Homo sapiens: one gene and its partners. The protein of the gene in region 1 purifies or fractionates together with the protein of each later gene. This does not show direct contact. Each region holds a gene or a part of one and is shown in the gene's direction. Other genes may lie near its edges.

Region 1 (3,655 bases):
ATTCAACAATTTGTAAGGTAATCAAATATGTTTTTGCTGCATAGGCCAATGCATTAATAGTAACTTGTTTTAAAATGCAGTCTTTTGGCCGGATATGATGGCTCACACTTAAAATCCCAGCATTTTGGGAGGCTGAGGCAGGCGGATCACCTGAGGTCAGGAGTTCGAGACCAGCCTTGCCAACATAGTGAAACCCCGTCTCTACTAAAACTACAAAAAGTATCCAGGTGTAGTGGCACACGCCTGTAGTCCCAGCTACTCAGGAGGCTGAGGCAGGAGAATCGCTTGAGCCTGGGGGACAGAGGTTGCAGGGAGCCGAGATTGCACCACTGCTCTCCCAGCCCGGGTAACAGAGTGAGACTCCATCTGAAAAAAAAAAAAAAAAAAGGCAGTCTTTTAGCCTTCATATTATTATGAAAGAGTATTCAAGAGTATGTATTAAGGTTGGTGCCATTTGCCATTAAAAGTAATGGCAAACCTGGTTTAACCCTTCTGATAGGTAGTTGTGGATGTTGGGGTTGAGAACAGAATAATCTTTGTCTGGAGTGACACCACACTCTAGAATTTCCACTTTGAAAAATACTCAGTTCTTTTTTTTTTTTTTTTTTTTTTTTTAATTTTTTTAGTATTTATTGATCATTCTTGGGTGTTTCTCAGAGAGGGGGATTTGGCAGGGTCATAGGACAATAGTGGAGGGAAGGTCAGCAGATAAACATGTGAACAAAGGTCTCTGGTTTTCCTAGGCAGAGGGCCCTGCCGCCTTCCGCAGTGTTTGTGTCCCTGGGTACTTGAGATTAGGGAGTGGTGATGACTCTTAGCGAGTGAAGAATACTCAGTTCTAAGCTGTGGTTCCTGGTAGAACAAACTTTATTTTTCTAGCTCAGCAGTGATCTGGAAGCTGAGGAATCTCAGCGCCTTTTAAAAGTTATTATGTGGTTTTGTTTTAAAAAGCTCCTGTTTTGGGAAAGTAGAATTTATGGGTATAACATATGTTCATTATTTGTACATAAAATAAAACCATTTAAAAAGTAAAAAATAATAATAATAATAATGGCAAAGACGTGATTACTTTTGCACCAATCTAAAAGATACGCCCTCTGTGCCTTGAGAATCATTGCGTCAGCACGGGCATCCCTGCCTCCTCTGAATTACTCACACTCACTCCATTTTGAAGGCATCAGGACATTTCATGAGGCCACTTCTTTGCCCTTACCTGTAAAAATCAAAAACTAAACTGACACTTTCCTCATGACATAGCTGTTTTTTTGTTTTTTTTTGTTTTTTTTTTGTTTTTTTTTTAGCATTTAGAAAATATTTATTAATAATATACATGAATTTAGATTATATAGTATAGAGGTCACCGGGCTTGTCACTTGAACTAACAGTAGTCTGTTTTTAGAATGCTTGAGTGTGATCATAAAAGACTACTTTCCAGGATGTCGGGGCTGGGGAGCTGGAGGGGCTGCTCCAGGAGGTGGGGGACCTGGAGCTGGTACTTACAGACTTGGGTGCTTATGAGTGTGGGTTATGGACCAGATGCCAGGGTTCAAATCCTAGCTCAGATACTTATTGATGGTATAACCCTGGGCCAATTACTCGACTCCTCTGTGCCTCAGTTTCCTCATCTGTAAAATGGGGAGTGGGCTGTTACCCACCTCATACAGTGGTTGTGAGGATTAACATATGTCAAGGACTTTAGGACAGGGCCAACGGACGTGGCGAGCACCCTGTGAGTCGCTGACTGTTACCCCTACTATTTAGTACAAATTAAAAGCAACAGACTTCACCCAGAAAGCTGAGAAGCCCGGGGCAGCTCATGGCAGCTTTTAAAGCAGAAAGGGGGACTCACTGGGGTCTGTAGAGATGAAAAAAAAAAGGGGCCTCCCAGTTCAGAGACTGGTGGGGAGGTTGGGGGTACCCTGCAGCAGCACCCATTCCCGTCCCACAGCAGCTGAGGAGTGGTGCGTCGGTGACAGAACCCGTCGCGGAAGAGCGAGGGTTAATGAGCCAGCCACTGATGGAGACCTGCCACAGCGTGGGGGCAGCCTACCTGGAGAGCCTGCCGCTGCAGGATGCCAGCCCGGCCGGGGGCCCCTCGTCCCCCAGGGACCTTCCTGAGCCCCGGGTGTCCACGGAGCACACCAATAACAAGATTGGTGAGTCAGCCTGTTTTGGGAGGTCCCCTGCAGCCCAGGGGCAGATGGGAGATGAATACGGGGCCCTGGGCCCTGGAAGGGACCTGGAGACCCTGGAGTTGAAAGGCCCAGGAAAGGAGAGGCATAGATTCTTCACCCCAATTGAAGTTTCTGTAAGTAGGGACAGCGAGGGTACTTACCTCGTAGGCCATTGTGCGGATTCATGAGCCAGTGTGCATGAGATGCCTGCTGTTACTCATAAAAAACGAACACCACCCCAGCCCCCAACACCGAGCACCCGAGGGGACAGGAGGAAGACGTGCCAGTGGTCACAGGACCTGCCACTTGTCTGGCGCATTCCGGGCACTGTGTAGGTGCCATCTCTTCATCTCTGATGGTCTCACCACCTTCTTTGGATGGTGTCTTTCTCCCCATTTTACAGTTGGGGAGACCGTGGCTCAGAGGGTGAAGTGATTTTCCCCATTGCATGGCTACTAAGTGGCACAGCTGGAACTCGTCCCGCATCTGCTGGGCCTTGAAGCCCGTGGTTTGTCCACGTTACCACCCACCCTCTGCAGAAGCAGGAGGACAGATGGGGCCCAGATGTTCAGAGCTTCCCAACGGCAGCTGCTGCCAGCCTGGACAGACATTGGCTTTGGCCTCCTGTGGGCCTCCCTGCCTCCTCTCTTGCTTCTCATCACCTTGGTACGGCATTTTCCCCAAAATGTATACCTGACCCTATTGCACTCCTGCCGAGAAGCCTCCAGCAGCTTCCCATTCCCTATGGGATGAATTCCAGCATTCTTATTCCAGCACTCAAGGCTGACAGCAAGTTGTAGCTCCCCGACCAGACTCACCTACCTTCTGACCCCACAGTCTGTCCCTCCCCCTCATGGCAGTCTCCCAAATTTACAGACCCCTCTGTCACTTCTGAGCTTCTCAATGGGAGCTACCCCCTCGCCTGAAATAGCCAACTCCACTGCCTTGAATCCAGTTAATTCTGGATATCCTGGGGACCCTGCTTATTTGCCCCTTCCTCCAGGAAGCCTTCTGTGCCCTCTCCACCATGCTATGCTCCCTAAGAACCCAGGCCTCCCCTACCCGGTGTCCTAGCACCCAGTGGTGTGACTGCGTGTTTATAGCCTTCCTCCACCTCCACCTGGCTTTGTGCTCCCTGTGGGCAGGGCCTTGGTGGACCCCACCTCTGTCGCTTCTGGAAGGGTAACTGGCACTGGGATAATACTGAAGAGTCATTTGTAATTGTCCTGTGCATTTCTATGGCAGACAGTGGTGGCCAGAACTCTTCAGGGCAGTCATCTTCTCTTTTTATTTTTTCAGCCTCCTGAGTAGCTGGGATTATGGGCGAGTGTCATCATGCCTGGCTAATTTTTTGTATTTTTAGTAGAGATGGGGTTTCACTCTGTTGGCCAGGCTGGTCTGGAACTCCTGGCCTCAAGGTGATCTGCCTGCCTTGGCCTCCCAAAGTACTGGGATTATAGGCATGAGCCACCATGCCCAGC
Region 2 (3,655 bases), on another chromosome or scaffold:
TATATGTTTTTCTTATTGTGGGGCATTATTTGCTACTTATTTAGTGCTAATATTTGTAAAGAGGGGTTCTTGACATGTTTATTTTTAGAAGTTTCAACCTGATAGCTTCCTCATGCAGAGGTGGCTGTGACATAGTAAGAACCTTGACAATGTTTCCCAAACTTTTTTGACCACAGCTGACATTGTAACAATACATTTTATATTAAACCTGTTCACACTTCCACAATGCAACTCAGTACATATATGCATAAGTCTATATGTCTGTTGGTCTATTTATGTATGCCAGTGCTCCGTCATGGAAACAATTGTGGTAGTAAAAGATACACCCATTAGACATGCAAACAAAGCATGTCTGTGGTGAAAGACTAACATGAGATACTATATACACAACAATAAAACAAGAACCTGAGTATGGGAAAAGTGGATGATAAAAACTACCTTTTCCCCCCTTTGCATTAATCCTGTTTGACTCATTCCCATTGCCCACCTGGTTCCTGTGGTCAATGGCAAGGGTACACCTGCTATAACCTGGTTCCTTATTGACAAGGCTTTGCAACCTCAGCATTGTGGCATTTTGGGTGGGATAATTTTTTTGTTGAGGGGGCTTTCCTGTGCACTGCAGGATTTTAGCAGCATCCTTGGCCTCCACCTACTAGATGCCACTGGTATCTCCCCAGTAGTGACAACGAAAATGTCTCCAGATTTTGGCCATTGTACCCTGGGAGGCAAAATTGTGTCATTTGGGACCACAGCTTTTATTCTCTACAGCTTACGAGAACCTTGAAGCCCATATGGTAGGAAACACTTGCGACTTCTTAGAGGCAGAAGTGGTCAGAAACTGGGTGGAGGCAGAGAGTTGAATCTAGCTGTTGGGGACTAGATGGGGGGAGCAATGTGGTGTGGTAGAAGCAGCATAGCCATATCAACACTGGCCTGCATTTGAATCCTGTTTCTGCATTCGAGCTGTTCTACACTCCTTTAATATTTCTCACCCTTAAAATGGGAATAATAAATGCTTTGTCTGATTATGGTAAAAAATAAATGAGATAATACATGTAAAATAGCACAGTAAGTTCATTCATAGTCAGTCATACCATATCATTGAGCGTCTACTAAGCCAGATGCTAGTTGGTGGGGTAAAATGTAGAATGAGACTCTGTCACCCCTACCTTCATGGAACTTACATTCTGGAAGGGGGGATGGTAAATAAATGAAAATAATTGCACATTGTGAATGAGTGCACTGCAGGAAAGAAACAAGCTGAGATAGAAAAAAAAGGAAATACCCTCTTTAAGTAGGGTCAGGAAAGGTCTCTGGGGAGGTAGCCTTGAAGCTGAGACCGATAGAAAGAAAAGATGTCAGCCGAACAGAAGAGTATGACAGAGCTTAGCATGTTGAAAGAAGAGAGGGTGGAGGTGCATCAAAGTGAGATGGGCATGGGCCAGATCTTGAAAAGGAGCTTGGGTTTTATTCTCAGTGCAACAGGAAGCCATTGAGGAATGCTCAACAGGAGGAGAGTGACATGATTAAATTTTTACTTTGAGAAATCTGCTCTTGGGAAAATGGGTGGTTGCACTACAAGGACAAAAGTGGAGAGACCCATGAGGAGGCTGTTCACGGACCTAGCAAGAGGGTTGCTGGCCTAGATGAAGGCGGTGGCTGTGGAGATGGAGAGAAATTGGTCAATTTGAGTTGTATTTTGGAGGTGAAAATGATAGGACTTATGAATTGGGCTTGGATTGAGGGAAAGGAAGGAGTTATGAATACTTTGTACATTTTTGGCTTCTCTAATTGGGTAAATAATGCTGGCATTCACCAAGATAGTGAAGACTAGGGGTATGGATGAGGGAATGGGTTTGAAGGAAAAGGTCAAGAATTTCGTCTTGGACATGTTACTTTTGGGACATTTGTGAGATGTCCAAGTAGAAATGCCAATCAGTGGTGGGATATGAGAGAAAAGGTCTGAGTGGAGATGTACTACAGGGAGTCATCAGCAAATAGGTGGTTTTCACATTAATGGTAATTGAATTTGTATTCCCATTGAACTTCTATTTCCATACTTAGGGGAACAATAGCATCTTATACTGATAGGGGGCTTACTCTTTGCCAGGCTTTGTTGGAAGTGCTTTAGATGAACTCATTTAACTGTTTACTCAGTCCTCACCATGACACTATGATTACTGTGCTTGTTTTACCACGTGGGGGGAATCTGAGGCACAAAGATATTAAGTAACTTGTCCAAGGTCACCCCTAGAATGTAGAAGGGCCAGGATTTGACCCAGGCAATGTGTTTCCTAAGTTCATGCTCTTAACTAGTATGCTATATTTCATCTCCTCTAAGGGGACAGTACAGCAAAAGAAATGAAACCCTAGAGTCCAATTCTGAGAAACCCTAACATTTTGTGCTCAATAAATGTTAGTTTTCTTGTTTCTTCCTTCCCCAGGAAAAAGAAGGAAAAGAGGGTCATACTTAGAGATACAGGAACAACAAGTAGAAAGAGCATATTAGGGGTGGCATAAGGGCCAAGAAAAGCTAAGGAAGCATGAGGCACAGGGACACAGGCCATCTTGGTGTGCTTGCTTTCAAACAGACACATAGACCCAACTGAGCACCAGCTGTGAGAGTGTGTTTATGTTAATTCATAGAGGTTATGCCAATGGGAATTTGGGATTTTAAAGAATTTCTTTAATGTTTACAGCCATTTTTTTTTCTTTCTAAGATAGACTTCTGGCTAACTCTAAAGAATGTTTATAATCACCTAAACATATTTTATTATTAACAGATACAGTTAGAAGTTTTCTGAATATGTGATGCTCATTAGCATCCAAATAACAAATTTGATAAGTTTAGTTTATGTAAATATAAGCATATGTTATCTATTTGTGATTGATTTTTGGCCAATAATATGGCATCAATACTGAAAGCACATACAGTTTTATTTATGTACATATGGGTATTTGGATGTTGCTAATATTTGAACCGTGGCTGTTATGCATTGTAAATACTTATCCTATTAGGCTGTATTAATTTCTCTTAATGAGTGTGTTAGGTATATTAATGTTTCTTAAAGTTCATGCTAATGAGGCAAGTTGTTACTTAGTAACCCCGAGGGATTGGTTCAAGGACCTCCCTCCGATATCAAAATCTGCAGATTCTCAAGTCCCTAGTATAAAATGGCATAGTATTAGCCTATAACATACACACATACTCCTGGATACTTTAAATCATGCCTAGATTACTTAGAATACCTAATAGAATGTAAATGTTACTTATATATTTGTTACACTGTATTGTTTAGGGAATAATATCTGCATGTGTTCAGTACAGATGGATTTTTTTTCCGCCTACTATTTTCAATCTGAGGTTGGTTGAATCTGCAGATGTGGAACTGACAGATATGGAGGACTGACTAAATCTACATTGTCATAGAGACCATAAACCTGTGTACATAGTTCCAAATGGGGTAGCTTTAGGCTTTATTATTCATATGTTTAATCCTAAATTCCTGTTTTGCTAGTTCTTTTGCCATCAGCTTGTACTTCAGCCAAACCATTGAGACATTACTCTTCCAGGGGAAGAGGCTGCTAGTTTTATTTAGTTACTGTTAGAACTGTTTAGTTATAATGGTTACTAGTCATCAAAGCTAGTAAAAAT
Region 3 (3,655 bases), on another chromosome or scaffold:
GCTGATGATGGTGAGGTGAGAGGAACATTCTCATAAATTGCTAGTGACAATATAAATTGCTATTATCTTTCCAGAAGGCACTTTGGAAATAGTAATTCCATTTCCTGAAAGCTGAAAATAAGAAGAAATAGAGGCAGTTTGTCAGTGGTTGACAAAATAAGGCCCATAGGCCAAATCTGGCCCACTGCCTGTTTTTGTAAATAAAATGTTATTGGGACACCACGCTGATTAATTTATATTTTTTTCTGTGGCTTTTGCAGTTTGAGTAGTTCAGCAGGGACTGTATGGCCCACAAAGCCTAGGATGTTAACTATTTGGCCTTTTACAGAAAAAGTTTGCTAACCCCTGAGTTATACCATTACAAACATTATTTATTGCAGGAGAGTTACTAAGCATTTGGAATAAGATTCACACACAACAATCAGGAGATGGTTAAGTAAATTAAGCTGTACTGAAGAAGGATTTCAAACATTTTTTTGAGAAACAGGAAATGACCCAGGTGTCCATTGTCAGGATACAGGCTATTTAAGGTGTCTCTTCACATAAAGAAATACTATACAGCAGTAAAAATTAACTTACAGGTGCAGGCAGCAACAGGACTACATATCAGAAACAAAACTGAATGGGAAAAGCAAAAAATCTCTGCAGGTTCATCTGGATTTTTTAAATTACGACTAATGATATCACCACTTTTAAGATTTTTGAAGAATTTTGAATGACAAAAGTTTCACTATATAGGAAGGAAGGATTTTAGGATGCAAATCCGTTTATATGGTGTGCTTCCAGTGACATTTAAAATTTGCAGTGAAAGTCCCATAATCCAGGTGAGCCTATATTTGAAAGTAACCTGTTAGGTCCTAGAGGTCGATGGGAGGGAGGGGTGTCTGGGACTCCTCTGTTAGCCACAGAAGAGATGGTTGTGGTATATGTCAGTGGCTGGCTGGCAGGAAGACTGGCTGTCCTGCCATGTTAAGGGTTGTATTTGAGGGGTATTCAAAATAATGATGGTCCTTCAGAGGAGATTTTGAAGAATTTCGCACGGAACAGGTTTTCCAGGAACTTAAAAAATATATTTATGTGTGATTGATGGTGTCCTCTGATAAATTGCATCAGAAAGTTTATACTAACAAGAAATATATTTTCATCCATTAAAGTACAGAGTAAAAAGAAGAAGAGAAATGTAGGAATGATTACATGTCAGTAAGGATATCCCAAGGTTGAAGAGTGAAGTCATGAGCAAATTATTCAGGCATTTACTGTTAACATAGTTGATTCCTTAAGTCAGCTTTTATCTGCATTACTAGAAATGCAGGATTTGAATCAGTGGAGAGGAAAAACTGGGTAATTAAGTTGGCTCTGGAAGGACTTAGGTTGTAAAGTTATTTTCACAGTCTCATAGCTGAAGTCAAAGTAGGAACTACCCATTAATTTTTCAGTGCAATTATGTAAGCATCAGTGTATTAAGCATCTACTGTGTACCAGGCACCAGGGACAGAGGGAACATGATATTCATAGACTAAGAGGAGGCAGACCGCAAACAAACAATATCAGGTGATAAATGGAGAGACTTAGATATGGTATGGTCAGTAGGGAAGTAGACTGTAGAACTTTGGGGTCCTGATTCTCTGCTTTCTATTAGACAGTGCTATCACCATTCCACACTTGAGGCTATATGTCCAGGCAATTTTGTTAAAAATCAGTGATAACCTAAATATTTCATGTAATGGTATGTATGATTATAGGACTCATACAGAGCTGGGGATAAAGTAACAGTATACTTTTTAAAGGAAACTTTTTTTACAATATCCCTTAATGAAGAACTTTTTACTGTCCATTACTTTTCACACTCCTTAACAGGACTCTAGTATGGGATTCCTTTCTACCTACAATACCTCGCCCACTGGCCAGAGTATTTCATTGTTGCAGAGGCACCTGGTGGAGAATTAATGGGTTATAGTAAGTATAATACCACTAGTATTTTGTGGAGTAGGTAAAGATTTTAATATAGATTTCAACTGATTGCTTTAGACTGCAGAATTGGAATATAATGATGCTTGTAATTTTATTTCCTCTTCAACAATTCAAGAACTTACTGATCTCTGTTTTGGGCACTGTGCTAGGCCCAGGCGATAACGGCAGTGAACCAGACAGACATGGTCTTAGTCTTCTTAAATCTTTCATTCTAAAAAAAAAAAAAATCTTTCATTCTAAGGCCAGGTACAGTGGCTCACGCCTGTAATCCCAACACTTTGGAAGGCCAAGGCAGGCAGATCCTTTGAGGTCAGGAGTTCAAGATCGGCCTGGCCAAATGGTGAAAGCCTGCCTCTACTAAAAATACAAAAAATTAGCTGGGCGTGGTATCGCGTGCCTATAATCCCAGCTACTCAGGAAGCTGAGGCGGGAGAATCACTTGAACCCCGGAGGCAGAACTTGCAGTGGGCTGAGATCATGCCACTGCACTCCAGCCTGGGTGACACAGTGAGACTCTGTCTCAAAAAAAAAAAAAAAATCTTTCATTCTATACTTTTGTTAAATTTCTACATGGTTTATTTAGTACATAATGCAGGCATCATAGCATCCTCATTGAATTAGCATTACTAACAGAACCTTTAGCTCTGAACTATATGTGTACATCCACATGTACCCACATATACCCACACCCATATGAAATGCAGATATTTGAAAAAATACATACTCTGGTTTTTTTTTTTTCAAAATTAGTTGTGTTTTAAGTATATCGTTCTTTTTTGTTCTAATTCTGATTTTAGAACTATTCTAAATGTAACAGATAGTGTTACATTTACAAGTGAATTTCAAATAAAAGCACTAACTGTTAGCTGGATGACCTCAGGTGGTACTTAAAAACTTCTTTATTAGTTTCCTTTGTAATAAAAACATACTGAACAGTAATTCTATATTTATGTGTAAATCAATGTCTAGTTACTGAATGTGATTTTTGTTGTTGTTGGCAGTTATGGGTAAAGCAGAAGGCTCAGTAGCTAGGGAAGAATGGCACGGGCACGTCACAGCTCTGTCTGTTGCCCCAGAATTTCGACGCCTTGGTTTGGCTGCTAAACTTATGGAGTTACTAGAGGAGATTTCAGAAAGGTGAGATTCAGTTTTTCAAATACACTTAGTGATTTGTGGACCCCTAACCATTTTCTTCCCCTTCAGGCTGAATAACTGTCATGCTTTACAGTTCACAGGAATTTCATCTTCCATCTCCAGTAGTCCTTAGAACAATTCTATCACATAGTCAAAGTGATATTGTTTCTATTTTGCCATTGAGGAAATTAAGGCAAAGTGTTGTAGTGACCCGCTATAGGCCTATAAGCTGAGGAATTGGTGCAATTCAGTTCCAAAGGCTAGCTCTCGAGGTTTCTCTTAGTGTTCCTGCCACAGTGGCACACATTCCTAAAATCTGTTACCATTGCTTTGGCATCTGAATAAATTTTTAGCAGTGCTCCTCGGCCAAAAGAAAATAGTTCAGTCTTAAGCAGTTATATTCTAACTGTTTAATAAGTATTTATAGCCTAACAGCTAATAGCCATTTAGAAAAAAAATAAATTGAAAGAAGAAATATTTTCATTTCATTCTTAAATAACTGTGGCTAGCTACCAATGAGAGGTGTGCACCTGTTGGACATTAAATGACT

What was found.
Region 2: the proteins of TNFRSF8 (region 1) and DPY19L1 purify together in Homo sapiens (affinity purification with mass spectrometry; 2 studies listed by BioGRID and IntAct, with this or other methods). This does not show direct contact.
Region 3: the proteins of TNFRSF8 (region 1) and NAA20 purify together in Homo sapiens (affinity purification with mass spectrometry; 2 studies listed by BioGRID and IntAct, with this or other methods). This does not show direct contact.

The regions. Positions count from the first base shown.
Region 1 is NC_000001.11:12,136,281-12,139,935, forward strand, and holds part of TNFRSF8 (tumor necrosis factor receptor superfamily member 8 isoform 1 precursor), read left to right. Parts: intron 1-1,948; coding exon 1,949-2,156; intron 2,157-3,655. UniProt on the Homo sapiens protein: Receptor for TNFSF8/CD30L. May play a role in the regulation of cellular growth and transformation of activated lymphoblasts. Regulates gene expression through activation of NF-kappa-B.
Region 2 is NC_000007.14:35,030,910-35,034,564, reverse strand, and holds part of DPY19L1 (protein C-mannosyl-transferase DPY19L1), read left to right. Parts: intron 1-3,655. UniProt on the Homo sapiens protein: C-mannosyltransferase that mediates the C-mannosylation tryptophan residues on target proteins.
Region 3 is NC_000020.11:20,023,812-20,027,466, forward strand, and holds part of NAA20 (N-alpha-acetyltransferase 20), read left to right. Parts: intron 1-1,865; coding exon 1,866-1,956; intron 1,957-2,972; coding exon 2,973-3,108; intron 3,109-3,655. UniProt on the Homo sapiens protein: Catalytic subunit of the NatB complex which catalyzes acetylation of the N-terminal methionine residues of peptides beginning with Met-Asp, Met-Glu, Met-Asn and Met-Gln. Proteins with cell cycle functions are overrepresented in the pool of NatB substrates.